4 separate regions of the Homo sapiens genome follow, and all the other regions are linked to region 4. Evidence: fine-mapped expression QTL. A gene starts in region 4. Each other region holds a variant in brackets. All regions are shown on one strand. Distances are between the middles of the regions.

Region 1 (8,137 bases), 61 kb after region 4:
GGTATTCTGTAGGCTGTCCTTCAGATTGTGTTTTTGATGTTTTTCTCATGATTAGATTGAGGTTAGGCATTTGGGGCAGGAGCACTGCTGAAGCAATGTGTCCTCGTTGCACCGTATCAGGAGGCATATGGTGTTGATACGTTTCATTATTGTGATGTTAACTTTGATCATTGGGTGAAGGTGGTACGTGCAATGTTTCTTCCCTGCTATTAAGGTACTGTTTTTCCCTTTGTAATTGATAAGTATCTTATGAGGATATACTTTTGAGATCCAATTTTTTTAACTTAGAATTTATTCAAAAGTCAAGAATCTTAAATCTCTGAAATGGCGTGGGAAGAAAAAGTGCTAGATACACAGAGATCTTTCTTGAGTCATGTGAAGGAGCAGTGCCCAAGCCCAGCAAACCCACAGCAAATTCCCTTGGCTTCCAGAAGAGATGGAGAAAGCAGTGCCCCCAGTGGAGGGTCAAAGGCCTCTGTGCAGGGTGTTGTGGGCCTGGAGAGCTGGCCTGGCCATGTCTTTACCTCCTCTGGGCATCTCCCCACCCCAACACCCTTTCTGTGGCCTGGTGGCTGAGTTGCAGCCGACACCCAGAGGCAGGTGAGTTGACAGCTTGGAAGAGGCTGCAGGGTGGATCTGCTGCATGAGCAGGCCTGAGCCCAGCCTTACCTCCCCACAGTGGTCCTGTGTGCCCTCCGGCTGCCTAATGCATGTTGGCACTTGCTGTACGAGCACCCGCTTCTTCACCTCGCATGCTGTTTGTGTCCTGCACTCCTTCCTTAACCCCATCGTCCTTCTGCTGTGTTTGCAGCCCCTATCTACCCTGGTGGGAGTGGCCAAAAATATTTAGGAGGGGATCACCAGTTTGTAGTGGCCTCAGAGGATGTGTGGTCCCCCTTATGCCTCAGCCACTCATCAGCCTAGCCCCTGCCCATCATCTGGCATTGCACTTGTGGAAGGAAAGAAGGGGAGGGCTGGGTGGTGGGTGGAGAACACGTCAGTCCACCAGGCGGGCCCTGCTTGCTGTGTTCCTCCACGCTGCTGTCCACCCACACCCCAGCAGTCCTCTGAGGGACCTCCCGGGGGTGACCTGGGCCACAACAGACTGCCCACTCAGACCCCATCTTACCCATGCCGTGGACACCCCGCCCCCCCCCCCGCCACTGCTATGCTATAGCTGGGGGTGTCTATGTGAGCTGTACAGCCCAGCACCACGCTGACGATGTTCTTCATCCCCTTCTCCCTGCAGGGCATCGAGCGCCTCAAACGAAAGAACCAGCCCAGGGAGCACATGGGGAGCTGGCAGTCAGTAAAGGAGACCTTTGGTGGGGACTTCTCCCTGAACTGGTTCAACCCCTTCTCCAGACCGTGTCAGCCAGAGATCCCCAGTGACAAAGACATGGTGCGGCAGGTGACATCGCTGTCAGACACCGAAACAATGGAGGATCCATCAGAGGAGACAAAGGACGAGGACTCTGTGGAGGTGACAGATGAATAGATGCTGCTGTGGGGAGAGAAGCAAACACTAAAAAGTGCTGTCAACCTTCATCCTGGGGTTTTGGCTAAAGGGGCTTATGGGCATGGTGCGCTCCCAGCACCCCCAGTGCTTCCCTTAGCCACTCGCTTGGCCTTGCCATTTCCCCTCCTTCTTCTCTCCATGTTGGGCCAGGTCTGGGGGTCGGGAGTAGGCTGGGGACATCAGAGGAGGATGGGGGCTTTCTCAGAGTTCATCTAAGAAGAGTCTGCACTGAGACGGCTCATCAAGAACCGTTCTCCAAGACTGGGTGGCTTTCACATTCTCCGCCCAGCAAAGGGAGCTTTTGAACAGGGCATCCCAGGGGCAGAAAAGAGCTTGCCTTTGGCTTTCCCCAGGATTTCTGTCTTCTCTTGGGAAGGCTGGGCCCCTGGCTCCTGGCTTTGAGAAGTAAGGTTGTGACAGAAGGACCGGGCAGGGCTTGCCTTGGGGACCTGGGTTGGGACACTGACATCAGGGGAGACTAGCCTGGAAAGACTGCAGAGCTGCCAGCTACTCCCTGGAAAGGGCTTCCCCATGCTGCCTGCCGAAATTAGGAGGTAGAGGTGGCTGCCACATCTACCTGCAAGGGCCAGGCATGGTTCAAAGAGGACCCTGCATTAAGCTCTACACACACATGTGCAGGACATGTCCAGCATGGACAGAGCCAGAGTTAAGACAGTAGCACCGAAAATGAGCCCCCATTCCACAGACACTGGAGTCTTCACTGAGCGAGACAGCTGGGAGCTGTCCTGCCTGTGGCTACATATCTAGCCATTCACAGATGTGGATATGGGAAGGACCTCTTTGGAGCTACTGGGGACTCCCTAACCACTCGCATGAGAACTTAATTGAATGTTACCTCTTGGAGGGAGTCTAATAACACATGTAGGTAGAACTGACCATAAACCCTGCCTGTGTGTTTGAAAAGGCCAGTTCTCCCAAATTGGTGCCCATCTTGTCTCTGAAAAGATGGGTGATGGCCAGGGTCTGCTGATTGATGAATCAGATGAATCAGGAAGATAGACAAACACACACACACACACACACACCCCACCAGGATGAGTCTGCCCTCTATTCACCCCATTTGAAGCCTGTGGTGTCTGTGACCACTGCTGAAGGTCTGAGCAGCGTTCTGGTGCTCCTAAACCCCATTCCAGTGGTTGCTGAAGCAGCATCTTCTGCACAAAGCCCAACAGAAGGGTTCTTATCCCCGTTTGGTATAAGAAGTGGATTCACCACCCACTCCCTCCACGTGCCTTTGTTCCTCTCTTTGGCCCATTTCCCCAGCGTCTACTGGCGTCAGGATTGGCAGGAGCACAGGCACTCAGCAGAGCATGCCCCTGCAAGACCTCAGTGTTAGGGCCCCCCTTCCAGCTCCAGGCAAAAGGGCATGAGTCCTGGCCCCAAGGGGCCTGTGGCTGCAGTTCAGAGGAGAAGAAGGTCAGTGTTTGGAGGTGCAGCCTCAGGATGCTGAGAAAGGAAACTGGCGACCGTGAGAAAGAAAAGAGCCAAGCAGCATCCTGGTTCTTGGACAGCATCTTTGGACACTCTGTGAAGGGCAACGATCCTGCCAGAGACCGTCTCTCTACAACTGATGACCCACTAGGGCCTGGGGTTAATTGCTCAAAGGGCCCAGTGTTCACAAAGCCACCTCTGCCCTAACCCTTGCCAGAGCTCTCCAACTATGACCCACGAGAGGGGTGATGGTGGGATTCTAACATCAACAGAGCAACCAGAAAGACATTGGGCCTCCCACACTCAGGCTGCAGGCCCACTTTCTTGGTCCTTATCAGCTTTAATATTTATTAATGACGACATAGGAGCCCGAGTCAGCTGTAAAGGCCATTAACTTGCAATCTGGACAGGAAGTTGACGCTCACCACTTTGGGTAAGAGCTGCTCTGACTGTAGGGCCCCCTATTTGTTGTCCTAACCCAGAAGCAGCTCTGGGCTGCCAGGATGGTGGATGGAATACCAGAGAGTTCACACTAGGGAGGAAGCAATGCCTGCCCCCTGGAGTCTCCTAGGGGGCAGCAGTTAGAATAAGGGAAGAGGATTTGCTGGTCACTGTTTGCTGACATGGGTTTCCATGGTGAGTTCAGGCCTGAGGACAGCAGTGTCTGCAAAACCACATGGCCCTTGAGAAATGTCCTTGCACATTGGGCTTCAAACTCCTCTTCTAGGGAATCCATCTTGGCCTGAAAGCAGAGGTACAACACCAGCCCCAAAGGCAATTCTGTTTTCAGATTGGTTGCTCTGGAAAGGAAGGCTGGGGTGAGGGGGCATTTTACTTGCACAGAGGCTGACCCTGCCTCCCCTCTTCACTGACCCCATCTCCAAGGTAGACCTCAGCCATGTCAGTCCCTGTTCTGGGAGGTGCTGGGCTGGGCCACAGCCAGGGTTATGTAGGTAATTAACCTGTCCAACCCTGAGCCTCGCCTCCCCACACCAGCAACACAGTGGTCTCTCTGTGGTGACCATTCACAGCATAACATTCTGCTTAGCCTCA[G/A]ACTGAAAGCATTGCAACTGATGTCAAAACCAGATGAGATCTTACAGGGAGAGAGATTGGGTGCAATTTGCCTCTTTCTTTGAATAAAAAGCTCTTTGCTCACCCTCAGTGACTGGAGTCTCCTGTTTTAATTAAGAGATCCCAGCTCAAACCCTTGGGCAGTGTCCTTCCTTATGGGCCACCCTAAAGGCACCTCTAGGAAAGCTACTTTTCTTCCATTCCCAGTGTGGGAGACAAGTGAGTGTCATACGGCACCACACAGTGGCCGTGCCGGGCTATATCACCTCTTGGGATCGGACACTGTGCTGTGGAGTGACTGACCAAACTCTTGTTTGTGTCACCACCCTTGTGGTATTTCCAGCAGAAGGAACAGTCACCTTTCCTTCAATAAACATTTATTGAACACCTACTGTATGCCAGGGATGTGGGCAACTTGGGCAAGGGTGACCAGGATTGAGGTTTTTTTCACTTGGACAGCTGGAAAGGCAGAGGATGACAGGTATCCCACCCATGACTCTCCTGTGAATTAGACACAAAATAACCCTCATTCAAGCTACGTGCCTTTGCCAGGGTGTGTATCCAGTTGGGGTGACAGCCTTTGAGAGAGGGGTTGGATGTACTGAACAGACAATAAAGAAGCCAACTCCTCAGAGCACCTTGCCTGGGGAGATCAAAGGATTCCATGGCTCCCCAAGTGACTGCATAAACCGCCAGCACATTTAAGAAGCTTATTGGCATAAAGAAAAAAGGACTCAGGGACCACAGAGTTTTCTTGAAGTAGAGTTTAATTTAAAGCTTATTGATCATTTGAGCAAATCTCTGGAGGGCAGAACAAGAAGGAGCAGGCTTCAGTTAACAGAAGCAGCCTTGAGTTGCCAGGATAGTGGATGGAATACCAAAGAAAGAGTTCACACCAGGGAGGAAGCAATGCCTTCTCCCTGGAGTCTCCCAAGGGGCAGCTTTAGAATAAGGGAAGAGGATTTGCTGGTCACCGTTTGCTGACATGGGTCTCTATGGTGAGTTCAGGCCTGAGGACAGGGTTGTCTGCAAAACCACATGGCCCTTGAGAAATGTCCTTGCAGATTGGGCTTCAAACTGCTTGGAGCACCAGGAGAGGGACTTCCTGGATTTCAGGGATAGAGAGAGGAGAATGGAGGCAATAGGAGGAGAATGCACTTCTATCAGGCCCATCCCAGTGCTGAGAGAGCACTCCAGTTGACAGGTGCCTTCAGGGCTGGTGAACCCATGGCCTGAAGATATGGCAGCTTCTCAAGGGTCGTCAGCAGGTGGCAGCACTGGGCTGCCCATAGTCTGCTGCTCCAGGGAGAGACTCTGTGGCTTCGAAATCTATGGATTTGAATTGAGACAATGGTGGCCCTGATTTTTGAGGCCATGACTCAGGAAAGGGATGGGATTCTGTGGCCTCGGCTGGTGTTTCTAACTGTAAAAGAGGTGACCCTGTGATAGCACAGGACCTGGCCTTGTGGGTCTGGCTGCTTATGGTTGTGTTGGCCTTTTTGACCTGCTGGCTCTTGAATCTGCCCTCATATAAGTCATCAAATTTAATCATCCATAATCTGAAAGCTAAGCACAAGGTAGGAAATGCTGAAATCTCAACTAAGGCTCCACAGCATCAGACAAGGCTACTTGGTGATGAGAACAATCTTCTGAGCATTAATCTCTTTCACTTGTTTGGAACTTAACTTGACGATAAATTTCTTGGGTCCAGTTTTTATTGGGGTGCATTTTATTTGGGATTGGATGGTCTCACCAGGCTGCACCGTCCTGGAAAATTCAAAGACATACGGACATACAATCAGCCAAGGATGTTATGGGAAGAGGGAGAAGATGAGTTGGGTGAGAAGCCAGGAAACTGAGCCTTAGCTCAGCCTCTTTGAAAAGTCCTGGCCATTCCAGGGCATGGCACAGTGTACCTGCACCCTGGGTGCTGCTATCAGTTTTCTCAGATGTAAAGCAAGACGGGTGAACCAGCTGGTTTCCAGAAGCTCTTCCAACTCTGACATTTCACAAATCTTCCCTGGAGTCTTGCCTGACTTTACTACAGATGTTCTTGTTTCATGAGTATTAGCAACAGTCATCTATTACATAAAATCTAAGAGGAACATGTATTTTATGTTGAATCCACATGCAAGGAATTGGCTAGCCCCTCACTACTCAAAGTGTGTTCTGGGGCTTCGCAATACTAGCTGAGCTTGTAGGAAACACAGAATCTGAGGCTCCACCCTAAACCTGCTGAATCAGAATCTACACTGTAACAATACTCCCCAGGTAATTTGTGTGCACATTAAAATGTGATAAATCGTGGTCTAAGGAAAATAGGAGTCTACTCATTTTTACTTGGAAGATTCAGACATCCTGTAAGAAACAGACCATCAGAAACCTCTCAGAAACAAAACATTAGAGTTCAGTAAAGTTTTTTGCTGGATATATCAGCATGCCAAAAATCAATTTCCATATAGTCCAGCAAACAATTAGAAAATACAATGAAAAATATTCCATTCATAAAAGCTATAATATTGATGCATCTTGGAATTAACCCAACTAATAACGTGCAAGTGGTATATAAAGAAAACAATATAGCTTTTCTAAAGGTGATAAAAAAGACTGGAAAAAAATGGGAAAATCTCATATTCCTAGATGGCAAGACACAATATTGTCATTTGGCATAATTCTCCCCCAAATAAATAGGTAAATTCAATGCAGTATCAATCTAAATCCCAGCTGTTTTAAAATTATATGACAAGATGATTCTAAAAGTGCTATAGACAAAAATGGGGGTGGGGTGGGGATTTGCCTAATACATATCAATATGTAGATATGATAATCATATAAAATTATTATAGGACTACAATAATTTAAGTGGTATGATGTTATATTAGAAGAAGACAAATGAAATAGCAAATTAAAGAGTCCAGAGACCCAGATATATATGGGAATTGACAGCATAATAAAGGCAGTGCTACAAAGTACTAGGAAAACCACAGACAAAGTTGGAGCTCCACATCACTCCACACCCAAAAAAAATTCCAGATAAATACCTAATTGTGTAAATAAAGCTGGAAATTCTAGAAAAAGCATAAGAGAATATTTCTATGCACCTAGGATGACATGAAATTCAGTATCCGTAAAGGAAAAGATTGAAAAATTTGACTACATTAAAATTTAAAAGTTCTACTGGTGAAAGACATCTTAGTGTTTAAAAAAATACAAACTGTTCGGCCGGGCATGATGGCCCATGCCTGTAATCCCAGCACTTTGGGAGGCCAAGGCGGGCAGATCACCTGAGGTCAGGAGTTCAAGACCAGGCTGGCCAATATGGGGAAACCCCGTTTCTACTAAAAATACAAAAATTAGCCGGGTGTGGTGGCATATGCCTGTAATCCCAGCTACTCAGGAGGCCAAGGCAGGAGAATCACTTGAACCTGGGGACGGATGGAGATTGCAGTGAGCCAAGATCGTGTCACTGCACTCCAGCCTGGGCAACAAAGTGAGACTCCACCTCAAAATAAATAAGAATCAAATTTAAAAAATTGAATACAAAACTGCTATAAAAAAATTCACAGCACATAACACTCTACTGTGTAAAGACACCATACCAATATGAAAAAATAAATGACTCAGTAGAAAAATGGACAAAAGTTAGGAACAGGCAATTCACAGGAGAGAGTCAATTAATGTAAGAAATATTCAACCTCACAAATAATCAGATGCAAAGTAAAGCAATGAGATTACTTAACCACTAGATTGGCAAGAATCAAAAAGATCTGTCGGTAGAGCATAAATTGATGCAATCTTTTCTCAAAGTAATTTGGCACTAGCAAAATGTATCTACATTTTGACCCTGTGACCCCATACTGGGAATTCACTTCTCAGGAATATGCACACATGTGCAAGATATATGTCCAGAAGCATATTTCTAAGAATACCTCAGGCAGACTCACCCATGGTCAGAGGTCTGTAGTGAGGAGATGCCCAGGCTTTCCAAAGAGAACTTGACGTCAGTCAAAGGGATGGCCAGGGTATTCTTGAAGATACAATTGCAGACAAGTAGCTGGCCAATTCTGCCTGTGTTAGGCAACTGTAGTAGGGTGG
Region 2 (8,000 bases), 97 kb after region 4:
CCATGGAAACTGGGCTTTCATGACTACAAAATAGGTGGAGTGGTCACGCCCACATCAGATGCCTACCTTGGGGATGCGGCCAGTGATGTGTTTGGAGACAGCACAGCTCATTCTTGCTGGAGTGGCTTTGGGATTGGGGTCTGGACAAGTGTTCTCCAGGAAGGCAAGTCCCAGCAAGTGGCCTTCCCTTCACACTGCGCACAGGGCCTGGGAACCTGCTGCCTCCAGCAGGGAGGCCCACCTGGCAGACAGACCTACCTTCCCAGGTGCTTCCCCTTCTTGGGCTGAAACCTTGGGGTGGGCCGATGGCTAGCTGGAGCATCTTAGCCCATTTGTGCCACTGTTATGGAATACCTGAGACTGGGTCATTTAGAAAGAATAGAAATTTATTTCTCACAGTTCTGGAGGCTGGGAAGTCCAAGATCAAGGCACTAGCATCTGGTGAGGGCCTCTTGCTGCATTGTAACATAGCAGAAGGCAGAGGGCGAGAGAGGACCAACTCCCTCCTTCAGGTCCCTTTAGAGGGGCACCTCATCTCATTCACAGGGAAGAAGCCCTTATCACCTAATCAACTCTTAAAGGCCCCACCTCTTAGTATCACCACATTGGCAACCCCTGAATTTTAGGGGGAGACATATTCAAACCATAGCATGCTGTCAGGAGCTGCAATCCTGAAAGGCTTCTTCATTTCCCTGGACAGCAGAGCTCCTGCTGTGGGACCCAGAGCCAATCGCAAAGCAATCACAGCTGGAAAAGGGCTTTAACAGTCCCTCCCATGTTCTGACTTATTCCTGCTCCCCCATGGACTGGGCAGGTGGGTGACCTGGGTTCCCAAGGGGTAAAGGTATAGGTTTTGGTACCAGGAAGCAGGAAAGAGCAGTTAAGAAATCCAAATCCTAAATGCAGTCATCTCTGTGGAAGCTTCTTAAGACCTTATCTCCCTGGAATGGTAAACATAGTCCCTCCCTTGGTGGCTAGTGTGCACATTGAGTGCCTGGCACATGCCTGGCACACAGTAGGCACTCGACAAAATGCAGGCCATCATTAATGTTAGGCAGATGGGCATATAGTGGGTTGAATGGTGGTCCCACAGAAGATATCTCCACCTGGAGCCTATGAATGTGACCTTATAGAAATAGGGGATTTTCAGGTGTGATTAAGGATCTTGTGATTATATTATCCTGGATTATCCAGGTAGGACCTAAATCCAAGAATAAGTGTCCTTATAAGAGACATGGAAAGGCAAGGGGAGGGTCATGTGAAGATGGAGGCAGAGACTGGAGTTACACAGCTGCAAGCCACAGAACACCTGGAGCCACCAGAAACCAAGAAAGACAAGGGAAGATTCTCCACTGGAGGCTTCTGCAAGAGCAGGACCCTGCGGACATTTTGATTTTGGATGTCTATCTTCCAGAACGAGAGAATAATAAATTGCTGTTGTTTTAAGCAGCCTCATTTGTGGTCATTTGAATGCCCTAAGAAACCAACATACAGCACATAACAGATGGCCAGTACTGGAGCCTCCTCCCTCACCCTCTCCTGGGCACTGCTCTGTGACCTGAGCACTGCTTAAGGCAGATCTGGGAGGCTGGAGGAATCCTGGAACTACAGGAAGCCACACTGGGGCTGTCTTTAAAAAAATGCCTTTGGAGTCACATACCTGTAATCCCGGTTACTCGGGAGACTGAGGTGGGAGAATCACTTGAGCCCAGGAGTTTGAGGCTGCAGTGAGCTATGATTGCAGCTGTGAATAGCCACAACACGCCAGCCTGGGCAACAAAGTGAGACCTCAACTCTAAAAAAAAAAAAAAAAAAAAAGCGTTTGTATTTTTATTTTGTAGCTATTGCACTTGGATAGATGGTCAAAATTGATATACCAGTTTAATGCTTGCAGTGTCATAAATGCAAGATGACCAGGGAAACCTGCAAAGAAAAAGTGTCAGTGGAATACAATGTCCTTGTTTCTTGCCACCAATGTGTGGGTTGGAGTTTAAATTATTTGAGTATTAAAAAACAAAAGTCTCTGCAATGGATAATTTTTGCTATAACTTTTGCCTATGAAGCCTCTGGAAAAAAGGAGACAACATAAAAGACAAGCAATCTCCAGATGGCGATATACTTTTGGAGTTTTAAAAAGCAAAGTTGCTTTTAAACTAAAATTAGCATTAGTTGCTAATGAGCTCTTGTGAAATTGTCAGCCTTAGAAGCTTATGATTTTCCAGTCTGTATGTATATTTTTGAGTGGGTCAAGTGGGACTCTTGAAATGACAAGAAAAAACGCACTTAAGAGGATCTTGGTGACTTTATAAGAAGAGGAAGACCTGAGCTTACCATGTGATGCCCAGCACCACCTTGGGACTCCTCAGGGAGTCCTCGCTAGGAAGAAGGCCCTCACCAGATGCAGCTCCTCGACCTTGGAGTCTCAGCCTCCATAACTGTAATAAATGAATTTCTTTTCTTTATAAATTACCTGAGTTTTAGGTATTCTTTTATAAGCAACAGAAAATAAACTAATACAATTTCCTTCTCCTTCCTTCTGGTAAGGCAGTTTGATTATTAAATACAGCTTTCCCCAGAAAGGGACTGACCTTTTCTAGGCTGCTCAATGAATAAATGATCAGGACAAAAAATAGTGAGAGGTTATTTAAGATTACTTTGATTTTTTTTTTTTTAATACAGGGCCTTGCTCTGTCACCCAGGCTGGAGTGCCGTGGTGTGAACACGGCTCACTGCAGCCACAACCTCCTGAGCTCAAGGGATCCTCCCACTTCAGCCTCCAGAGTAGCTGGGACTACAGGTGTGCACCATAGTGCACTTCATAGTGGTGATGAAGTCTTACTATGTTGCCCAGGCTGGTCTCAAACTCCTGAATTCAAGCGATCCTCCTGCCTCAGCCTCCAAAAATGTTGGAATTACAGACACGAGCCACCACACCCGAACTACCATTTTGAAAATTTTTGAAAATTCAGGATTTTGTCCTGACCAATTCCAGAATATGATGTGTTATTCTGGTTAGGTTGTATTAAAATATTTTTCTGTAAAAATGCTTTTGTCCCTCTTGCAAACAACCATTCCAGATGAAAGGTCTGGGTGAGAATAAGAGATTACTAAAAACAAAAAGAAAATAAAGTTATGATTGCTGAATGAATGAGATACACAGAGAAAAAACATGTCACAACTAATTGCTAAAGGAATTAAACACATCCTGTGTGACACTGGAGAGGACTCTTGGAAGACCTGCCTAGCTCCCTCAGGACCTCACCCCAGCAGGCTTTTCCCTTTGCTGATTTTTCTTTGTACTTTTTGCCACAAGAAATCACATTCCCCCACCCCCCAGTGTCCATATTGCTGCCTGAGTCTACTGCCACCTGCCAGCAGGCACTCCTGGAGAGTCTCCTTCCCAGAGTGCTTGTGGGAGCACAGCCCCTGCAGAATGCATACCGGTTATGAAAAATTTCAAACATCACCTCTTTCTGTAGAGGTCTGGGATTCCCCCATACTGAGAAAGTAAAATAAACAGTTGTCCTTGGCTCATAGGCAGAAACTGGCTCCTAGTCACAGTTGTCACTGGTTTAGGGGATAAACGCCAATCTTCTTTGGAGTAATTCATTCTCCACCAAAGTTTTATGGCATTCCCACAGATAAAGTCACACTCAAGGTGAGCTTATAGCCCCAAATTTTAAAACACAAAATACACTATTTCAGCAGAAACCACACAAGTATTCGTCCAAGAAATCAGATAATATACAGACTATAAAATAACGTATATAGACTATGGACCAGGCACAGTGGCTCACGCCTATGATCCCAACACTTTGGGAGGCTGAGGCAGGGGGATCCCTTGAGCCCAGGAGTTCAAGATCAGCCTGGGCAACATAGAGAAACCCTGTCTTTAAAAAAAAATTATTTAATTAACTGAGAATGGTGATGTGCACATGCAGTCTCAGCTACTTGGGAGGCTGAGGCAAGAGTATCTCTTGGGCCTGGGAGGTCAAGGCTGCAGTGAGCCATGTTCACACCACTACACTACAGCCTGGGTGACAGGGTGAGACCTTATTTCAAAAAATAATAAATAAAATAAAATATTAAAAAATATAGGGCCGGGCACAGTGGCTCATGCCTGTAATCCCAGCACTTTGGGAGGCAGAAGTGGGCAGATCACCTGAGGTCAGGAGTTCGAGACCAGCCTGACCAACACGGTGAAACCCCGTCTCTACTAAAAATACAAAATCAAAATTAGCCGGATGTGGTGGCAGGCGCCTGTAGTCCCAGCTACTTGGGAGGCTGAGTCGGGAGAATGGCGTGAACCTGGGAGGCAGAGCTTGCAGTGAGCCGAGATTGCGCCACTGCACTCCAGCCTGGGCGACAGAGTGAGACTCTGTCTCAAAAAAAAAAAAAAAAATTAGCCAGGCTTGGTGGCACATGCCTGTAATCCCAGCTACTCGAGAGGCTGAGGCAGAAGAATTGCTTGAACCGGGGAGGCAGAGGTTGCAGTGAGCCGAGATCACGCCATGGCACTCTAGCCTGGGCAATAAGAGTGAAACTCCATCTCAAAAATAAATAAAT[A/T]AATTAATTAAATTAAATAAACTATATATATATATATATATATAGAGAGAGAGAGAGAGAGAGAGAGAGAGACCATAAAATAGCCAAGTCAAAAATGGCTAGGGACCTAAGAGAATAAATCAGAATGATGAGAAAGGAATAAGCCACTATTAAGAATGACCAGATAAATTTTTTAAAACATAACTTCTAAAAATGAAAATATGGTTCTCAAAATGAAAAAAACTCACAGGTTAAACAGCAAATAGACATAACTGAAAGAGAATCAGTGAACTAGAAAATAGACTGGAAACAAATACCTATAATACAACCTAGAGAAATATTAATAGAAGTAAATATGAAAAGCAGTTTAGAGACGCGGAGTCTTGGATGAAAAGGGCTAAACTATATACTATAGTTGTTCTGAAAGGAGAGAATCAAGAATGGGGAGCAGCAGCGAAGAGGTGATGGTTGAAAACTTTCCAAAATGAATGAGAGACATGAATCCTCTTATTTAGGAACCACAAAGAATCACAAATAGGATAAAGAAGAGGCCAGGCGCAGCGGCTCACGCCTGTAATCCCAGCATTTTGGGAGGCCAGGACAGGCGGATCACTTGAGGCCAGGAGTTCATGACCAGCCTGGCCAACATGGTGAAACCCCATCTCTACTAAAAATAAAAAATTAGCTGGGTAATGTGGCGCATGCCTGTAATCCCAGCTATTCAGGAGGCTGAGGTAGGAGAATCGCTTGAACCTGGGAACTGGAGGCTGCAGTGAACCGAGATCACGTCACTGTGCTCCAGCCTGGGTGACAGAGTGAGACCTCATCTCAAATAATAATAATAATAATAATAATAATAATAATAATAATAATAATAATAAAACAAAAGTAATAAATGCCCATTACAAAAATTAAGTTTCTCTCCCATCCCAGACTCCCAGATCCTTTCTCCAGAGAAAATCACTATAAAGTATCTAGGTATCTTTCCAGTTTTCTCTGCCATAAACCATTACTTTAGTTACAGAAACAGGAGCTTTCTCAATACACTATTCTGCGCCTTGCTTCTCTCTCTCTCTCTCTTTTTCTCCCTCTCTCTCTCACACACATGTCTTGAAATTTATCTCCTAACCACCCAAGTAGATCTTGTTATTATTTTCTTTTAATTTTTTTTTCTTTTTTTGAGACAGAGTCTCATTCTGTTTCCCAGGCTGGAGTGCAATGGTGTGATCACAGCTCACTGCAGCCTCGACCTCCTGGGCTGAAGCAATCCTCTCACCTCATCCTCCTGAGTAGCTGGCACTACAGGCATGCATCACCACACCCAGCTAATTTTTTCATTTTTTGTGAAGAAGGGGTCTCCTTATGTTGCCCAGGCTGGTCTCAACCTTGTTACTTTTTAGTAGCTATTATCCCCCTGGATGGACATGTAGACCATTTAAAATCTTATATGCTACAATGTACTTCCTTGTACATGTATCTTTGCACTCATGTGTGACAATATTTGTAAGAGAAATCTTCCAAAGCAGAATTGCTGTGTCACAGGATATGGGCATCTTTAATTTCAGCAAATGTTGCCAGAGAGCCTTCTAGCGACTGCACCAGTGATACTCCTACAAAAAGATGAGAAGATGCCTTTTTAAAGCTATTTACTATTAAACTTTTAATCTTGGCTAATCTGATAAATGAAAAAATGAAATCTCATTGCTGTTTTGCTTTTATATAACCTTTTTTTTTTTTAAGAGACAGAGTCTTGGCCTGTCACCCAGGCTGAAGTGCAGTGTTGCAATCATGGCTCACTGCAGCCTTGAACCTGAGTAGCTGAGTAGCTGGAACTACCGATATGCACCACCATGTCTGGCTAATTTTTATTTTTATTTATTTATTTATTTTTGAGACAAAGTCTCGCTCTGTTGCCCAGACTGGAGTGCAGTCTCAGCTCACTGCAGCCTCCGCCTCCCAGGTTCAAGCAATTCTCATGCCTCAGTCACCCAAGTAGCTGGGATTACCGGTGTACCCCACCACACCCGGCTAATTTTTGTATTTTTTAGTAGAGACGGGGTTTCACCATGATGGCCAGGCTTGTCCCTAACTTCTGATCTCAAGTGATCTGCCCACCTTGGCTTCCCAAAGTGCTGGGATTACAGGCATGAGCCACCTTGCTGGGCCACGGCTAATTTTTAAATTGTTTTGTGGAGACAGGGTCTCACTATGTTTTCCAGGCTGGTCTCGAACTCCTGGGCTCAAGCAATCCTCCTACCTCAGCCTCCCAAATTTTGGGGATTATAGGCATGAACCACCATACCTGGCCTGCTGTTTCAGTTTTATTTCATGACCACCCTCGTTACAAGTAAGGTTGAGCATCTTTTCATATATTACAATTTATATTTCTTTTTCTTTGAACTACCTAATACTGCTCTTTGTCCATGTATATTTTGGGATGTTGGTCATTTTCTTATAGATCTGAGAGCTCTTTTTATACTACAGAACAGCATTTGCTTCTCATATGTGTTGAAAGTACCCTTCACAGTTCCATTACCTTCTGACTCTGGAGGTTTTGTCTTACACATATTTTTAATTTTTCTGGAGTCAGTTTTACTGTTCTTTTCCTTTATGTTTCTAGGTTTTCTATTTTCCTTTGTAACACCTTCTCTACTCTAAGATTATTTTTCATATTGCCTTCATTTTCTTCTATTGCCTTTACAGTTTCGTCTTCGACCTTTCTGGGATTCGTTGTGGGATAAGCCATGAGATAGATATCTGGCTTTGTTTTTCTCTAAATACTAACCAGTTGTCCTAATACCATAAAGTGCACAATTTCTCATTTCCTCCATTTATATGAAATCCTACCTTTATCCCACACATATCACCATCTTCCAGGTCCCTATTTGGATGTCCTGACCTCCTAGAGTGGTTGGAAGAACAAATGAAATCATATTCATGAAAACACCATGGAGTCATCACAACTTGCTAATGTTGTAAGGTGGCATGTGATGGTTACTTGCACAAGCCCATCAGAAAGGACACCTCAGGGAGCGTCAGCTCCCCTCACCAACACCCCAACACTGGTGGCCAGGAGATGACTGTCTTTGGTGATTTAGACCTTGAGAGTAAAGTCAAATTGTGCCCAGCAGGGAGGCAGCATAGTGTGGCATGAAATGAACACACGCCGGGTTTGTGTCCCAGCTCTGCCACCCATGGCTGGGACCTCAGTCAAGTCATCAAACCTCCCCAGTGAACAGGTCACACCTCTTGAAAATGACAGTGTGGGTCAGGACTACCTTTCCTTCAGGTAGTCCTCAGTAATTTATATAGTGCTTTCACGGGATTGATGTAACCTGCCCAAAGCCACAGGGCTATTTAGACATGAATCTTCTCTCAAATCAGCAGGTGCTTCCCATCACACCACACCACCCTTTCTCAGTCCTAAGGACTCTGTACCCTCCAAGACTGAGTCT
Region 3 (8,139 bases), 190 kb before region 4:
CATAAAACTTGTATGAAATAAATTTGTATGCTTTTCTCCTACTGTTCCATCTTAAATCAACTTAATTCTCAGGCTCAGCCAAAACACTCTAAGGGAGTAGAGGTGAAATATTTCCTCCCTTACACAGCCAAGGCTGCCATCATGTGCTGGGTTCTTTCACATCTACCAAAGCAGAAGGTCAGACTCAGCAGGAAGCCATCATAAGATGGAAGTGGCACCTCCAAGATTAGGTCCAAGCAGGGCCAGAGGGCACAAGTCACCTGTACAAGCAGATGGACCAGACCTCATGTCATCTGCACACTCTGGCACCAGGACCACCCCTCCTTCCTTCAGGCCACACCAATGACCATGAGTTGGGGGCTTGGGTGGAAGGCTGCATTTGGTTCACAAATAACTCAGCCTAATTTGTGGGTGAGGGCCAAAAATCGACCACAACTCCATCCAGGGGCAGCCCTGAAAAGCAGCAGGGAAAGAAAACCCTCCCCATAGAAAGAGAAGTGGTCTTAAATTAGAATTTACGCAGGTGTGCAGGCAGCAGAAAATGGCTGCGCTAGTTCCTCAGGGGCCCAGAAGAGAAAAATTGGAAGAAAGAGACTAAGGAGGGCTGGGAAAGAGGCACCTGGATGGACCCTCGGGAAGGGGCACAGCGTGACCTGCAAGACAAGAGGATGGGCCCACAGGAATGGGCACCAAATCGTATTGCACAGCAATGTCCACCACAGAGCACCCACTACAGGAAAGGCACTGAACAGCCACATGGTCAGAGTGACTTTCCCAGCCTCCATCACTGGCCACATGGGTACATGAACAGAGTAGTTACCGCAGAACAGTGCATGCTACCACTAGCTGGGTTCTTTCACACGCATCAAGGCAGAACGGATGGAGGATTGCGCATGGGCTGGACACCATAGCCTTCCACTCTCCAAGGTGATGCAGCAACTGCCACTATCCAGTGTCTAACCTGACAGCCCCAGAGACCAACACTGAGGCCGAAATGGCAACAACCCTTAGGGAGCCGAGCCAGCCTTTCAGTGACTAGTTCAACATTTGAACCCTTCCACCTTGGAAGGAGCAGCAATTCACTCTGGGTGGAATTGACCCATACTGTGGGCATGGATTCACCTATTATGCCCACAGACCTTGGCCAGCACCTGCAGAATATGTGGTCTACCAATACAGGATCCCATGTAGCATTGAGACAAAGAGACCTACTTTGCAAAGGCAAGTGACCATGAGGTCCCTGGTGATACCACGTCCTCATCCTCTAGAGGCCAGCCGGAGGTGGAATGGTCACTGAAGGTCCAGGCAGCCAAAGCACCAGCTGGAGAGGGCGCTATGTATCCTGACACTCTAAGTCAACAGGCATTGTATGGTACTGTGCCCCTACCCCCTGAGAGGAGTGGTTCACCTGGAAATCAAGGGGTGGAAGCCTGAGTCGCCCCACTTACCATCACTTCCAGGACAAGATCTCTTAACCAGTTTCAATGTCCCATTCCCACAGCTCTGTGGTTTAGAGATCTTGGTTCCCAGAAGAGGATACACTTCTACCAGTGACACTCTGAGGATTCCATCAAACTCCTAGCTATGGCTGCTTTCCAGTCACTTTGGGCTCTTTGTGCAGAGAGACCAGCAGGGAGAAGAGCCACCATCCCATCGTGGGTAACGGGACCCTGGTCATCAGGAGAAAGCAGGGTTGCTGATTACACAATGGGGGCAGGCAAGAATATGTTTGGCACTCGGGTGGTCCACTGGGGCATCCCTTGGTTGTCCTGACCCCAATTTATTTTTTTATTTTTATTTTTATTTATTTATTTAGAGATGGAGTTTCACTCTGTTGCCCAGTCTAGAGTGCAGTGGTGCAGTCTTGGCTCGCTGTAACCTCTGCCTCCCAGGTTCAAGCGATTCTCCTGCCTCAGCCTACCGAGTAGCTGGGATTACAGGTGCCCACCACCACACCTGACTAATTTTTGTATTTTTGTAGAGATGGGGTTTCACCATATTGCCCAGGCTGGTCTCAAACTTCTGACCTCAGGTGATCCACCCACCTCAGCCTCTCAAAGTTCTGGGATTACAGATATGAGCCACCACGCCCTGCCTAAGGTTTTGTTTTTCTATAACTCAACCCAGCTTCCACTGAAGCCCCATTCTGCTGCAGTGGTAGATGTCTCCCTTGGAGCAGAGTCCAAGTTTGGGAGCATCATTTGCACCAAGGCCTTTCAAGAACCCTCCAGAAGTTCCATCCTCAACACACTGACCCTTTCTAGCTTCTAGCCCTCAGAGAAAACCCCACACTCCCCAAGGCCCTCCCTAAACCCTTTCTCTCAGCCCCAAATCTTTTCAGTCAAAAGTTGTGAAGGGGAGAGAGGGGCAAATGTGGCCCAGGGGATTCATTTGCAGCCTAAATTTTTAAATTAGTTATCAACCTTTACAAATTAAGGAATTTCACATGAAATTTTGTATTTTTATGCTTTTCTAAAGAGATCAGTCTATCCTTCAATTTCCTCTGGTGGCACTGGCTGTCGCGAGAGGGAGCCACCTCCTCTTGCTTTAGTTTTTCCAGTGGTCCAGATCTCTCCACTCTGCCTTGCTGCCTGGAGCCAGGGGCTTTGGCTTTGCTGCCCTGAGCTCCCTTATGGGTGCAGGGTTGTGGCTTTGGGAATACAGGTTTGTTAGTCACTTCTTTTTGCTGAGGCAAAGGTTGGGGAGTGAGTGACGGTGATGAGAGGGAAATGCTAAGAAAGCTCTTTGAGCTGGGTGGTGAAGACTGGATAGGAGTGAGAAAGTAAGGCGAAGGCCGGGCACGGTGGCTCACACCTGTAATCCCAGCACTTTGGGAGGCCAAGACGGGTGGATCACTTGAGGCCAGGAGTTTGAAACCAGCCTGGCCAACAGGGCAAAACCCCATCTCTACCAAAAAATTAAAAAATATGCCAGGCGTGATGGTGCATGCCTGTAATCCCAGCTGCTCGGGAGGCTGAGGCGTGAGAATCCCTTCAAACCAAGAGGCAGAAGTTGCAGTGAGCAGAGATCACATCACTGCACTCCAGCCTGGGTGTCATAGTGAGACTCTGTCTCAAAAAACAAAAAACAAAACAAAACAAAAAAACAGAAAGTAGGGAGAAGCAGAGAGGGCGTCCCAGGCAGAGGAAACCACCTGAGCAAAGGCCTGGGGGTACCCCTGCTGGGAGACCGTGAGGGTACCTGTCTGATTAAACGATGGGTTTGACATTATGCTGCAGTGGGGGAAAGGCTGGGTAGGGAAACTGGGGACAGAATGTAGACAGTAAACTTGACCTAGTCAACTCACAAGCTTGTGGGCAGCTGGAGGCAGAAAATGATTGACTTCTCCAAACATTTTGTGTTTCTGAGTGACTTAATGGGAAGGAAGTGGGTTCATTCCAATCTATCTTCTGCACCCAGATCTGTACCAATCCAGAAGGCAACTTGACCCAACCAGCAATTTTGCCTAATATTCTGTTCAGGGCTCTATGTTAGGTACAAAGAAGAGGCGTACAACAAAGGCCAACAGTGGGGGTTGAAGACCTGTCTGCAACATTCCTCCTAGGAAATGGTAGAGTCTCATTCCCCTTCCCTTGACTATGAGTCCCTTTTAGTGACTCGATTCTAACCAATGAAACACAGGGGAGTGACATTGTGTGACTTCTGAGGCTAGGTCATAAGAGAAAATACAGCTTCCTCCTGTCTGATGTGTTCTCTCTCTCTTCCTTTCTCTCTCTTGGAGCCCAGCCACCATGCTGTGAAGAAGCCCAGGCCATAAAGGGAGGAACACTCGTGGGTGTTCCAGCCAGCAGTGCCAGCTAAGGTCCCAGCTGGCAGCCAGCACCAGTCACCAGCCATTAGTGAGCAAGCCTCGGAAGATTCCTGCCCCAGCCTTCTGGCTGCCCTAGCTGATACCACAGAGGCAAGCAAAATAAAGCCCCTAGGTTTTGGAATGTTTATTATGCAGCATGAAGTAACTGGAGCACAAATACACAGAGCCAGGCTCTAACCCAGCCCGGGACAACTGGGAACCAAGCACGGTATATGGAACATCCTAAACATTCCTCAGCTGACAGGTGTATATTCCGCTGTTTTCAGATGGAACAAAATCAGTTCTGAGCTGTGGCACCGAGCTGTAGACCCACATATAAACGATGTGCCATCCAGGTGGGGGAAATGAAGGAAGGCCTCAGAGGGGAAGCCGTTTTGACCACACTGTGGAGGATGAGGAAGACAATTTCAAGAGAAAAGGGCAATGCAAATCACAGACACTGTGAGCTGGACACTGTGGCCTCAGGGCGCTCTGGTCAATCCCTGCATCCTCTGTTAAAGATTGGCAGTACTGACCCCTGCACTCAGGCTTCCTATGTCCTACTGGGCATGTCCCCTCTTCAGGTCACCTAGAGGCTGCCCTCAGCTCTCCTCTCCCTGACCTTTAGGGTAGGAGGGATTTGACAGAATTTGATGTTCGTCCACCAGAGGTGGTCTGTTGACTGTTGAGTGATTTCCACAGAACTGTGTATTTTGCATTCCTT[A/G]TCTTTCCATTCCCCACCTAGACCCCTGCAAGGCCCCGCAATTTCTTTTCACCCACTCACTGCTTCGTTAGTGCTGGAGTTAGTCAGATCTCATCAGTCCCTCCTCGATGGCTCCTTCCCTCTTGTTCCACTGCTGACAAAGGGGCTTGCTCTCCACCAGCCTTCCCTGTTGGACTCTGTGCTTTGGAACCAAGTAATTGTTCCATTACTCATTACGTTTTACAGTTATAAATGCAAGACAAGTCCATTACAGAAAATGCTGAATCAAGAAAAGAAACTACACACAATCTCATCACCCTGCCCCGCCATCAATAACCATTCATCTCGTCTTCTTTGAGGATTTTTTTTTCAACACCTATAGCGTTTTTAAAATCCTGTTATAGCCGGGCACGGTGGCTCACACCTGTAATCCCAGCACTTTGGGAGGCCGAGGCAGGCAGATCACCTGAGGTCAGGAGTTCGAGACCAGCCTGGCCAACATGGCAAAACCCCATCTCTACTAAAAATACAAAAACCAGACATGGTGGCTTACCCCTCTAATCCCAGCTACTCGGGAGGCTGAGACAGGAGAATTACTTGAACCCAGGAGGCAGAGGTTGCAGTGAGCCTACATGGCGCCACTGCACTCCAGCTTGGGTGACAGAGCAAGGCTCCATCTCAAAAAAATAAAAAATAAAAATAAATAAAAATAAACAAACCCTCTTATCATACTGCACATTCAATTGTGAATGCTGAGTTTTGTCTTTGGTGTCACAGTGCATGCTTTTTGTCATCATTTTCTTTCCTAATGAATACGTAGTGGTGTCAAGTGGCTGAACCTCGTTTTCTTTAACTATTTTTACAGTGTTTGGCATCTACGTGGTTTCCAGTTTTTCCCTGCAGTAAACATCTCCCTGCCTAGGGCTTTTTCTGAAAGCTGAACTACTTCCTCAGGACAGATTCCTAAGAGAAATGACTGGGTCAGAAGTTGTGGGTATATTAATGGCTCTGGATATAGACCACTTGTCAAATTATCTCAGCGACTTGTTTCTTTGAACTGTGATCTTGTAGTTAATGCTGTTGTTGTTCTGGAAGTATTAGATGACCACTGGAGAAAATTTGGAAACGTTGAGAGAAGTGAATAAAAATCAATCTCATTTCACCCATAAAATGATAATCATTATCAGTAACATGTTGGTGTCTTCCTCTCCAGTCTATTTTTCTTCATGTAAGTTTTAGGGTTTTTTTTTTTGTTTCAGTGCCTATATGAATTAGCATAATTATCATGGCACTCTAAATAAATTAGACTTCATAATTTTTCTTGAACATAACAGCTAAGCATTTTCCACTTTATTGCAAACTTCAAACAGTTTAAGATATTTTCCACTGAGTAGATGTATCCTCATTTACTTTCCCATTATCCTATTTGGGGACACTTACACTGATTCCAAATTTTTGCTCTTAAAAACATTTGCCAGGAATAAATCTTCAAGTTCTGACTTAAAAAGCAGTTTGTAAGTTGGGTAAACAGAAAAATGATGAAAACTTACAATAGAAGAGTTGACTAATTGGTCTTGATTGTGGAAAAGGCTAATTTCTAAGCTCCTTCCTAGATTCATGAATGGAATTTAAATAACTAAGCTTTTTTTTTGTTCGTTTACAATCAAAGCAAACCCAATGAAGATTACTGATTGGGAGCCCAGACACCTGGTTTTCTGGTGGTTTTTCCCTCGGACAAGTCACAGGCCTGGCCTCTTGTGACTTAGTCAAATGCACAGTCAGACTAAACGGTGGCGGCACCGGCGCTGCAGGGCTCCCGGCTGTTTCCTTTTACCAACCCACACCGTTGTCAAGGGCGGCGCCTTCGTTAAGCATTCCTCAGTCACCGCGGTGAAGTTGCCATTTGCTTCCTGCCTGACTCTGACTCACACAGCAGCCTGGGGCACAAGTCCTACCATCTGTGGGCCTGGGCCGGCTGGCGGCACAAAGAGGAGCAGAAAGTGTGCCTCGATGCGCAGGACATGAAAAACAAGTGATGCCGCTTCCTGTGTGCAGACATGGAAAGATAAGGAAGAGGCTTATGATGTTGGAAAAGAAAACAACAGCGGCAACAGAAACCAAACCTGAGGGCAAGACAAACAGTATATGCTATCGTTTGTATAAAAATAAAATAGAGAGCCAGATATGCACATACCACCCCCGGTCCCCCCAAAATAAAGAGCTCAATGGCAGTGAAGGGCTATATAGTCACCACTGGCAACTGCAGAATGGATGCTTATTGTTCCTCAGAAAATTACTGTATTTCCTGCGTGACTCAGAGTTCTGTTCACTGCATTGGTCGGTTGAAAAGTGACATAGGCTTGGGTGGAAGGAGTGAAGCCAGTTCCCCAAACACTTCCTTGGTACCCAGGCTGACCTGTGGTGGAGACATCCTCCCCCAACACCTGTGCCCATTCCAATGGCAGACAGGCAGTCAGATGCAGGCACACTGAGAAATGCAATTAGGAGAGAGAAGGAAGGAGAGGGAGAGAAGGGAGACAAGGGGTGCAGCTAGAGAGGGAACAGAGTGAGAAAAAGAAAGAAACTTTGGCCATCTTTTGAACAACCATGACAATCTTGAGGAGTTTTGGTGGTGCTTCATTTAGGATGAGCTTTTAATGGTCCTATTCTCTAAAGGCAGCCTCCTTCTCAGGATGTCCTTACCCTGAGCAGCTCAGAAAATCAAGGGCTGCTGCAGCCTGGCAGCCTTTTGCTGGGGACTGGTCCTGCCTGGAATGGGTCTTGAGACCCTGGGTTGGCCTGACCTCCAGTCCTAGCCCTGTTCTTCCAGTACAGTAACAAGTGACCTTGGCCCATGATCATGGCTGGCCACCGCCCAGCCTCTGGGAAGGCCTCAGCCCAGGAGCCCCCATCTGCTCACCCACTGAAATGGGCCTCTCCCGCTCCCCAGTGAGGCCTTGGAGCAGAGCCACTGAGAACCCTGAGGCCCTAGGAGAGAAGAGAAGAATTAACAGGGTCAGTTGTTTCCAGATGTCTCTTACTTATGTCAGGATTAATCTTTTTACTACAGAGCCATTAAACTGGACAGAACACATGGAGAAAATGCATATAAAGCAGATGTCCTGGATAACAAGGAGAGGAGGTAAGAACCACGAGGAGAACATGGAGTGGACAGAAAGCACTGCCCAAGGATGACACACATGACAGGAGGAAGCAGGGACCCTGAAGGCCAGCCAGGCTCCTGAGGCTTCAACTCTACCGCTTCAGAATCTTCTGCCAGCAACTTGACACTAGTTCCCTGTATTAGTCTGTTCTCATACTGCTATAAAGACATACCTGAGACTGGGTAATTTATAAAGAAAAGAGGTTTAATTAGCTCATGGTTCTGCAGGCTGTACAGGCTTCTTCTTGTGGGGAGGCCTCAGGAAACTTACAATCATGGTGGAAGGTGAAGGGGAAGCAAGCACATTTTACATGGCTGGCAGGAGAAAGAGAAAAAAAGAAAGTGCTACACACTTTTAAACAACCAGATCCCCAGATAACGCTAGCACAAGGCAGCGCTAGGGGGATGGTGCTAAACCATTAGAAACCGCCCCAGTGATCCAATCACCTCCCACCAGGCCCC
Region 4 (8,139 bases):
GCAGGAAGGTGGCCTCAGAGTCAAGTATGGGCTTTGCAATCAGACAGGTCTGGATTTAAATCCCAGTGCCACCACTCAATTACTGTGTCACCTTGACAAGCGACTCAACCTGCCCGAGCTCAGTTCCTCATCTATAGAGATAACATTTACCTTCAGAACTGTTGTAAATATTCAATGAAATAAAAATTATAATATGTACCTAATAAGAATGGGATATAGCCTTCAAAGACTGAAAGAGAACCTAACAGAAACCAATCAAATTATTTATCAAAATACCGATTTAATCCACCTTTTTGATTCTCTGTTCTCCCCTGGGAGAGGGGATCTGTTCACCAGGTTGACTCAAATTGTATCACCTAGACTCCCTTTGCTGGCTTCTGGTTGGGTTTGTCCAGTGGAAGATACCAGATCAGAGGGTGCCCCTCACCCCCAATCTAGTGGCCACATTTCTGATAGTGCCTGCATCTATCGAAGACTATGACTTATGTTGGGCAGCCCTTCCTCCACAGTTCCAGCTATCACTGAAATGTGGTAATACTGTTTCCTCCCCTGGCCCCTTTGGAATAGGGGCAGTAGCCACTCCCAGTAGTTGTCTTGGGGCTCCTCAACATCTCTTATTGGTTCCCTGAAACCCCCCCCATACTGCTCTAGAGTCCCATCATAAAAGTCTCCTGAACTACCTGAAGAGGGTTCCATTTTCTGCCAATAACTAAAATGATCCACCCTCCCTTCTCACAAACTGACTTCTCCCAAGTGTGACACATCCTCTAGTGGCCATGTTTGAGCCTAATTATTCTGTCCATCCTTTCCCTCAACCCCCTAAAAGAACTAGAGTTTCTTTCTCTTGGAAACATGAGTTCAGAACTGAACGAGAAGGAATGGTCTCTTTTACAGAGGAACTGGGAAGGAACCACATTTTTTCTACCACTGGCCCAAGAAATAGAAAACCAATCTGTAGGGAGACAAAAACAAAGCAAAGAGGGGGAAAAAAAAAACCAGCAGAGATTAGGATTCCTGGAGAAACACTTGCAGCCTTGTAATCCATACTGTTTTGCTTGAGCCGATGTGTTGGTTACCATTACTAGCAACTGAATCCTCAACACATCGTGAGGTTAATTTCAACTGCTTCTAACTATCACCAAAACAAGATGAAATATTCCCTGAAATAGTAAAAGAACCAAAGGCTGAAGGGAAAGTGACATCAGAAGCTGAAATGGACGTTACTGGACCAAAGGTGAAAAGTAAAACACAAAATGACTAGGACTATACAAGCAACAGGAGTTCAGGCAGGCACTGCTTAAGGTGCACTGCCGGCACTCTATAACCAACGCAACAAAAGTTTAGGAGATTTCAGAACTGAATCAGTTGAGATTCCATGGTAGGCTCATTCACCTGCATCCTGACCTTTATTTGGATGGTGTAAATTGTGTTTTGCTCCTCTATACATATGGCATATTTTGGGCCAACATTAATAAGCCCTTATGAAGACGTTGATTTGAAGCCCATTACTCTGCATGGCTCTGTGATACACAGAGCTGAGCATTTACCAACAACTGTGCCCAAATATGTCCATGGTACTGGTGAGAGGGAGGTTTAATTTAAAAAATAAAAACACCATCCAACTCATTCCCCCTTTAAAGCTTACATCACCCATTCAATGCTACTAAGAACCTACCAAGTGCTAGACACTGGCTATGCCTTAAGGGTCCCCCATACAGACAAGTCAACAGGCTATTGCCTTCCAAGATCCATGATGAGCGAATGACTGAACCTCTAAGACCTCTAGGATCGTGCTTCTGGCCACCTCTGCAAGCTGATCTTCCACCATTTCCCCCAGCCCACCCCTTGGGCTCCACATGTCCTCCACCTGAGGATTTACAGACTCACCACCCCTTCCTTCTGGAACACTGGTGCCTACTTAATTCTCAGTCATGCTGAGAACTCAGTTCAAATGCTATTTCCTTAGGGAAGCCTCCTCTGACCTCCCAGTCTAGATCGTGTCCGTTTTTTCCTTCATAGCATTCAGTACAATTTTATATATAAACACTCAAGTACATTTATAGTTTCTGCATCTTCCTTCTAGCATGAGAGCTATATAAGGACAGGTTCCTTCCTAGCCCCTGAGTCTAGCTCAGTTCTGTGTTGAATGAATGAATACTGAGTCCTGAAGATACAGAGGAGGAATCCTTGACATGGATTTAGGGGAGCAATTCCACCTCCTTAGGGAAGCCTTCAGAGCATTACAAGTCCCTGGAATTCTTTTTATTTATTAAAAAAAAATTATTTCTTTAGAGATGGGCTCTCACTGTGTTGCCCAAGCTGGTCTCAAACTCCTAGGCTCAAGCAATCCTCCCATCTCAGCCTTTCAAAGTGCTGGGATTACAGGCGTGAGCCACAATGCCCGGCCCCTGGTATACTTTAACTTCAACCTCCACTAACTATACCACTTCCTTGGCATAGATCTTACATTACCTTTGTTTTTATTTTATTCACTTTTACTCTCTGTTTGTCTCCCTCCTATCTTTCATTTATTTCACAACCATGTTTTGGCATCCCTGCTGTTTCCCACATAACATGCCAGGAGCTAGATATATGTTGGTAAATAAAATTAACTAATGACCATGGTGGGACTCTGCTGCTGGATAGCTAATGAACTGCCGTGGGAATTAAGGGTGCTGGGGAGAAAGCTCTAACCTTGAGGTTACAGATATATCCATGCCTCAGTGCCACTTTCAGGGATGAAATGTTGAGAGAAAATAGGACACATGACAGAGTCACTACATCATGGTAAGCTCCGGTAACAAAGAAGACCAAAGGTTTTTAAATTTAGAGGAAAACGGTTATCCGTAATGTGTCCCTAAAAAAATACTTTGAGGATAAAAATCACCTGAACAAAGTGTATACAAAAATATAGCAGGGAAAGACATATCTAACTGCTTTTGGGCATTTTTATGCCCCCTCACACACAAATAACATACATGTTACCCTGTAATACACACATATGTCCCACTGTTGTTAATCCTGAATTATAACTAAAATATGCAACTGTGAGTTCTGACTTTATTATCCAGGCATAATATGCTAAATATTGGCATTTCTTCATATATAAAGGGCCCAGAAGATAACGGCAGGTCACGATTTTTAAATGGACATGTCCTTAACTCACGTTGTGGGACTTCAATGATAGCTGGCCGCTTCAATCCGATGGCTACATCACGGGACCACTGACTTTGCAGTTGGTACTGACAGAGGAAAGGCATGAGGAAAAGAGGTAGGAGCTGTCGCCAGAACTCTGCCAAGGATGGGATGAAGAACTCTGATAGGAGGACCACACCGTAGGTTAACAAGTGGAGACACAGCCGGAGGAGGATACAGGGTAGCTCGTTACCAGGTCCAACATTTTTCAACCCTCGTTCTGGAGTGGTCATAACCAGGGATTTAATATAGAACACAGAGGACATTAGGTTATAGCTGCCTAGGGATCTTAGTTCTTCATTGGCAAAATGGAAACAGCACTTAGGCTATCGGCTGCCTAGCCGCTTTTTTTTTGAGACTCGGCTCACTGCAACCTCCGCCTCCCGGGTTCAAGCGATTCTCCTGCCTCAGTCTCCCGAGTAGCTGGGACTACAGGCGTGCGCCACCACGCCCAGCTAAATTTTTTTGTATTTTTAGCAGAGACGGGGTTTCACCATGTTGGTCAGGACGGTCTCTTGACCTCGTGATCCGCCCGCCTCGGCCTCCCAAAGTGCTGGGATTACAGGCGTCCTAGCCGCTTTTTAAAAACCCTTCCCCCTTTATTTGTACGGCAATTTGTATTTTCAAAGTGCGTTCACCTCGCATGCGCCCTCCTAACCACGAGGTGAGGAAAAGCAGGCCAGAAGCCCACCTCCAAACTCCCATTTCCTCGAAGAGAAAACTGAGGCTCGGACAAGATCTGTGCGCGAACGCCGAATGGATGGCCCTGGGGCCGATGCTCTCTCACTAAGAAAAGGCCTCCGAGACTGCCCAAGCTTCCTGCCCGGGTTCGGAATCTTATAGACCCGCAAAACTGCAAATGCGCTAACAGTCCTAAAAACGTCCACGTTGCCAGCTCTGAATTGCAAACGCCGGCAGCAGAACCGTTTAATCACAAGGTAAACGGAGAGTCGCCGCAGCTCGGCTGCCTCCTCACTGGCAAACCCAGGGCAGGCCGCGACCCGCAGGGCCAGGCTGAACCCGGCGGCCGACCCAACGCCGCTGCTGTAGCTACCTGGACGCCATGCACGATGTACACCTTCTCCGCCTCGCTCAGCGTCACGGACGCCATGCTGCCGAGCTGCCCCACGAGCCGCACGTCATCTGCGCGCGTCCCCTCCTCTGGACCGCGCCCCCACGTCCCACCCCCCCCCGCCCCGCGTCAGCGCGTCATCAACCTGCGCGGCGGCCGCTCCTGCAGCCGCGGCCGCCGCCACTGCCGGGAGAGCTCGATGGGCTTCTCCTGCGCGCCGCCCGGTGTCTGGCCGAGTCCAGAGAGCCGCGGCGCCTCGTTCCGAGGAGCCATCGCCGAAGCCCGAGGCCGGGTCCCGGGTTGGGGACTGCAGGGGAAGGCAGCGGCGGCGGCGGCGGGAGCCCCACCGGGGTCTGGGACTGGGGAACTGCCTCCGGCTTCACGGTCAGTTGGGAAGGGAAACTGGGGTAGGGGTGAAGAAGCTGGGGTGAGGCGAGCCTCACGGGCCGGGGGACTCCCAGTGGGAGAGGCGTGCGGCGTAGTTGCTCAGAGCTGGAGTTGACTTAGGAGCGTGTGTGTGTGTGTGTGTGTGTGTGTGTGTGTGAGAGAGAGAGAGAGAGAGAGAGAGACCCCGACTAAGGAGGGGCGGACGTCGTGATTGGCCCGGGGGTGCTGTTTCCCTGCTCTTCTCCCCTCCATTTCTCTAGTCCCTAGGATGGCTGGAGAGGCGATGCAGCCCTCCCTAGGTAGTTCTTGGTGGGAAGGGTCCGGGAATGGGGGACACTAGTCCTAAGGCGTCCCCACCCCTCCACCCAGGAATATCTCTCGCTGGCTCGCTCACTCTCTGTGACCGAACGCTGTCCCATTACCTTGCTGGGACCTCTTGCCTCGGGTGCTTACCAGAGCGTTGTCCCACAGACGGGGGAGGAGGCGCTTGGTAACCGGCACTGGCGAGGTGCGCAGTGCCCGGACGTCCCCAACGCTTCCTAGCGGGAACTGGAAACCCCGGCTTGATGGAAGTGATTACTGGGAGCTGTGAGCAGTTGCCCGAAAAAAAGCCAACCCCAACCCCTTGCGATGGCCGAGTGGGAGTATGGGCATTGGATACCCGGAGAGGATATCTGCAAGGTGAAGCTGGGGTCACCAAAGGAACTCATTAAGGCGGGGCTGACAAAGTATGGTGCAAGTTTTAAAGGAGCCGTGTGGATAAATGGGAGAAAGTTAACCCAAATTAGTTGAAGCAAGGAGGGCAGGTTAAAGCAATTCTGATGACTTTCCTGATGTTCCATTTTTGAGGACCCTCAGCCAAAAAAAAAAAAAAATGGTATTTATCAGATAGTGGGTTCAAATACAGTTTCAGATAACTATTGGGAGCCTACTATAGATAGGCTTTGTGCTACCTTTAGAACACAAGACAAGTAAAACATACTATGCCCAGAGAAGTTCCCTGGGCAGATGAAGGCTCCAGGGCCAACATAACCACAGATCATGGTGGTTAGAGCTATGATGGTCGCATCAGTGGGCACAGTGGGATTGGGAGGTCGTCTGATAAGGTTATAGAGAGGAAGTGCTTGCTCACATTCTTAAGCATTAAACTGCTGAGCTCCAAAATTGATGATCAGTTCTTCGTAGACTGGACATTAGATGTTTCTTATGTCTCTACGTAATTCTCCACAGGGGCACCTAAAAGGAAGACAGCTTGCAGGGTTGGACTTTGCCTTCCAGGGAAACTGAAAGAGGTGAAGCCGGAAGGATTTCCTCCCTAATGAAGGCACAGGTGCCCCACCTGTTGTGGCACTTAGATGTGTTTGTGTGTGGTTGGACGGCTGGGTTTTATGTGAGGAGCTCTGTTGTGATAAGATAACATGAGATTGCTGATGTTATAAATGATATTTTCTAGATGTGCTAGAGATTGCTCAGAAAGGAGAGACCCTGGAAGTGGGATTTTAGAAGCTAGGATATCTGAGGAGACTGAGGATTTAAGAGGTGACAGCAAATGGACAGATCAGAAAGACACAGGAAGAAAAGCCTGAGTTCAGATACCATGGAGTTATCTTTATATAAAGATTTTCCAATGTCTTAAAATATAGAACATGTATTTGAACTGTCCCCCCCTCACAATTGACGGGAATTCCATACTGGACAAGGGTCTGCAGTATTTGCTAAATAATGTTATGAACGATGTCTTATATATTAGGCTAAGTAGGTAAGAGAGATGTAAACAGTAGAATGTTCCTTTTTAAATTGTCTACTAAAACAATGACAGTCTTCACTAATCATTCGGCTTAAATGCTGCCAGAACATTTTTATCACCTTTGCTGTAATAGTGCATTGGACGTCTTTAAAATCCATAAATTCTGAGTTCTTTTTTAGTGTATTGAAGTAATTCAAAGAACATATGATAACCAAAAAAATCAAGAAGTCAAGGATGGCACAGTATTAAACCGTCTTGTTTTTCCATCACTATTAGATTCATTTATTGAATGAATAAATGAATTGGGGCATACTATTCTGTAGGTTTGTGTATTCTAAAACCTTATACTCTAATTTTCAACACTAATTTACATAGTGCTTATTGTATGCCAAGCATTGTTCTAAGCACTTTATAAAGATTAACCAGGCTAGGTGCGGTGGCTGACATCTGTAATCCCAGCACTTTGGGAGGCCGAGGCCGGTGGATCACCTGAGGTTGGGAGTTTGAGACCAGCCTGACCAACATGGAGAAACCCCATCTTTACTAAAAATACAAAATCAGCCGGGCATGGTGGCGCATGCCTGCAATCCCAGCTACTCGGGAGGCTGAGGCAGGAGAATCGCTTGAACCCAGGAGGCGGAGGTTTTAGTGAGCTGAGATCACGCCATTGCACTCCAGCCTGGGCAACAAGAGCGAAACTCCATCTCAAAAAAAAATAAAAATAAAAAATAACTGATTCAATCCTTGCAACAGCCCTGTGATGCAAGTATTCTTATCCCTATTTTACAGATTGGGAAATGAGGCACAGAGAGGTTAAATGCCTTAACCAGGGTCACAGGTTACATCATTGGTAAATGGCAGAACCAGGACTTGAGACCAGGCAGTCTAGCTCTCCTGCCCATACTCCTAACCATCACCTTACACAGCCTCCCCCCAGGTTTTATTACATTCACCAGATTATTTGGTGAAGGAAATCCCAATTTTGTTATGGCGTTGGTAACTGTCCTATGAACTATATAGTTAATCTTAATTCCAAAAGCAAGAAGTCTGTTCAAGCATAAACTCATATCCCTTGAATCATTTTTCTAGAGGAACATGGAATGTGGTGCTGATGGGATGTTGCTGTGTCTGTTGCAACCCAATATTTTAAACAAGGTAAAAGGTTATATATGAGCAGAATAAGAGCTTAACTCCAAGTAGCTAAGGAGAGAGCCCTCAATGGCAAAGATGGCTGATAGATCTGGTACTAGGGTTGAGTAGCATGCATGGAGACCCAGATTCCAACCGTATGCCATACTCAGATATCTAGAAACTCCAGACAGTGTGTTTGCATGCCTGTGAGTCCCTGGTGTTCTTATGGGCATAAAGAGATAAACTCAAAACACAACACCTGCCTAAAAGTAGTTTAGAATTTATTATAGTGGGGGAGCCCAGGACCTCGAACTACTGCATGAACAAGACAATAAAATAAAGTGCTCAATTGAGACGTGGCAATTAGAAGAGAGGCCAGCCTATAATAAGGTGCTAATTGTGCAGGCCAGGTATCAAATACAAAAGGTAAAGAGCTGCTGCTAGCCACAAGCCGGCAACAATAACATGACAGAGATGGAGTAACTCTGTCCCACCCATCCTTGGTTAATTAAACCAATAAAAGCCAGTTACAAAAGAGCTTCAGGGCAATGCTGAGTCTGTGGTGCTGATGTTGCAGAGAGCTTTTTTGGAGACAGAGTCTTGCTCT

Which allele goes with the higher level. Alleles are on the strand shown, and positions count from the first base shown. SD is a standard deviation of normalised expression in the study named. Not every link is listed here.
With allele G in place of A in region 3, the expression in activated CD8 T cells of the gene that starts at base 4,410 in region 4 is lower (large effect, 0.92 SD a copy in Schmiedel 2018).

Evidence for each region. PIP is the estimated chance that this variant, and not a neighbour inherited with it, causes the effect.
Region 1: its variant is fine-mapped to the expression of ZDHHC3 in whole blood (TOPMed, PIP 0.94).
Region 2: its variant is fine-mapped to the expression of ZDHHC3 in whole blood (TOPMed, PIP above 0.99).
Region 3: its variant is fine-mapped to the expression of ZDHHC3 in activated CD8 T cells (Schmiedel 2018, PIP 0.95).

The regions. Positions count from the first base shown.
Region 1 is chr3:44,911,256-44,919,392 of GRCh38, reverse strand. It overlaps TGM4 (transglutaminase 4), which reads right to left. Exons shown (of 14, transcript NM_003241.4): 13 at 7,987-8,123; 14 at 4,403-5,809. The coding sequence ends at 5,668. It overlaps ZDHHC3 (zDHHC palmitoyltransferase 3), which reads left to right. Exons shown (of 7, transcript NM_001135179.2): 7 at 1-4,132. Among named protein-coding and RNA genes, the nearest start is that of TGM4, 41 kb to the right of the region's middle. The variant G/A (reference allele first, on the strand shown) is at 4,025.
Region 2 is chr3:44,875,876-44,883,875 of GRCh38, reverse strand. All of the region lies in intron 1 of TGM4 (transglutaminase 4), which reads right to left. Among named protein-coding and RNA genes, the nearest start is that of TGM4, 5.3 kb to the right of the region's middle. The variant A/T (reference allele first, on the strand shown) is at 4,567.
Region 3 is chr3:45,165,937-45,174,075 of GRCh38, reverse strand. No RefSeq gene overlaps it. Among named protein-coding and RNA genes, the nearest start is that of CDCP1, 24 kb to the right of the region's middle. RefSeq lists a silencer at 6,256-6,375 and enhancers at 5,936-6,899, 6,900-7,863. The variant A/G (reference allele first, on the strand shown) is at 4,536.
Region 4 is chr3:44,972,445-44,980,583 of GRCh38, reverse strand. It overlaps ZDHHC3 (zDHHC palmitoyltransferase 3), which reads left to right and starts at 4,410. Exons shown (of 7, transcript NM_001135179.2): 1 at 4,410-4,651. It overlaps EXOSC7 (exosome component 7), which reads right to left and starts at 4,340. Exons shown (of 8, transcript NM_015004.4): 1 at 4,250-4,340. The coding sequence starts at 4,306. RefSeq lists silencers at 4,374-4,443, 4,564-4,663 and an enhancer at 4,886-5,430.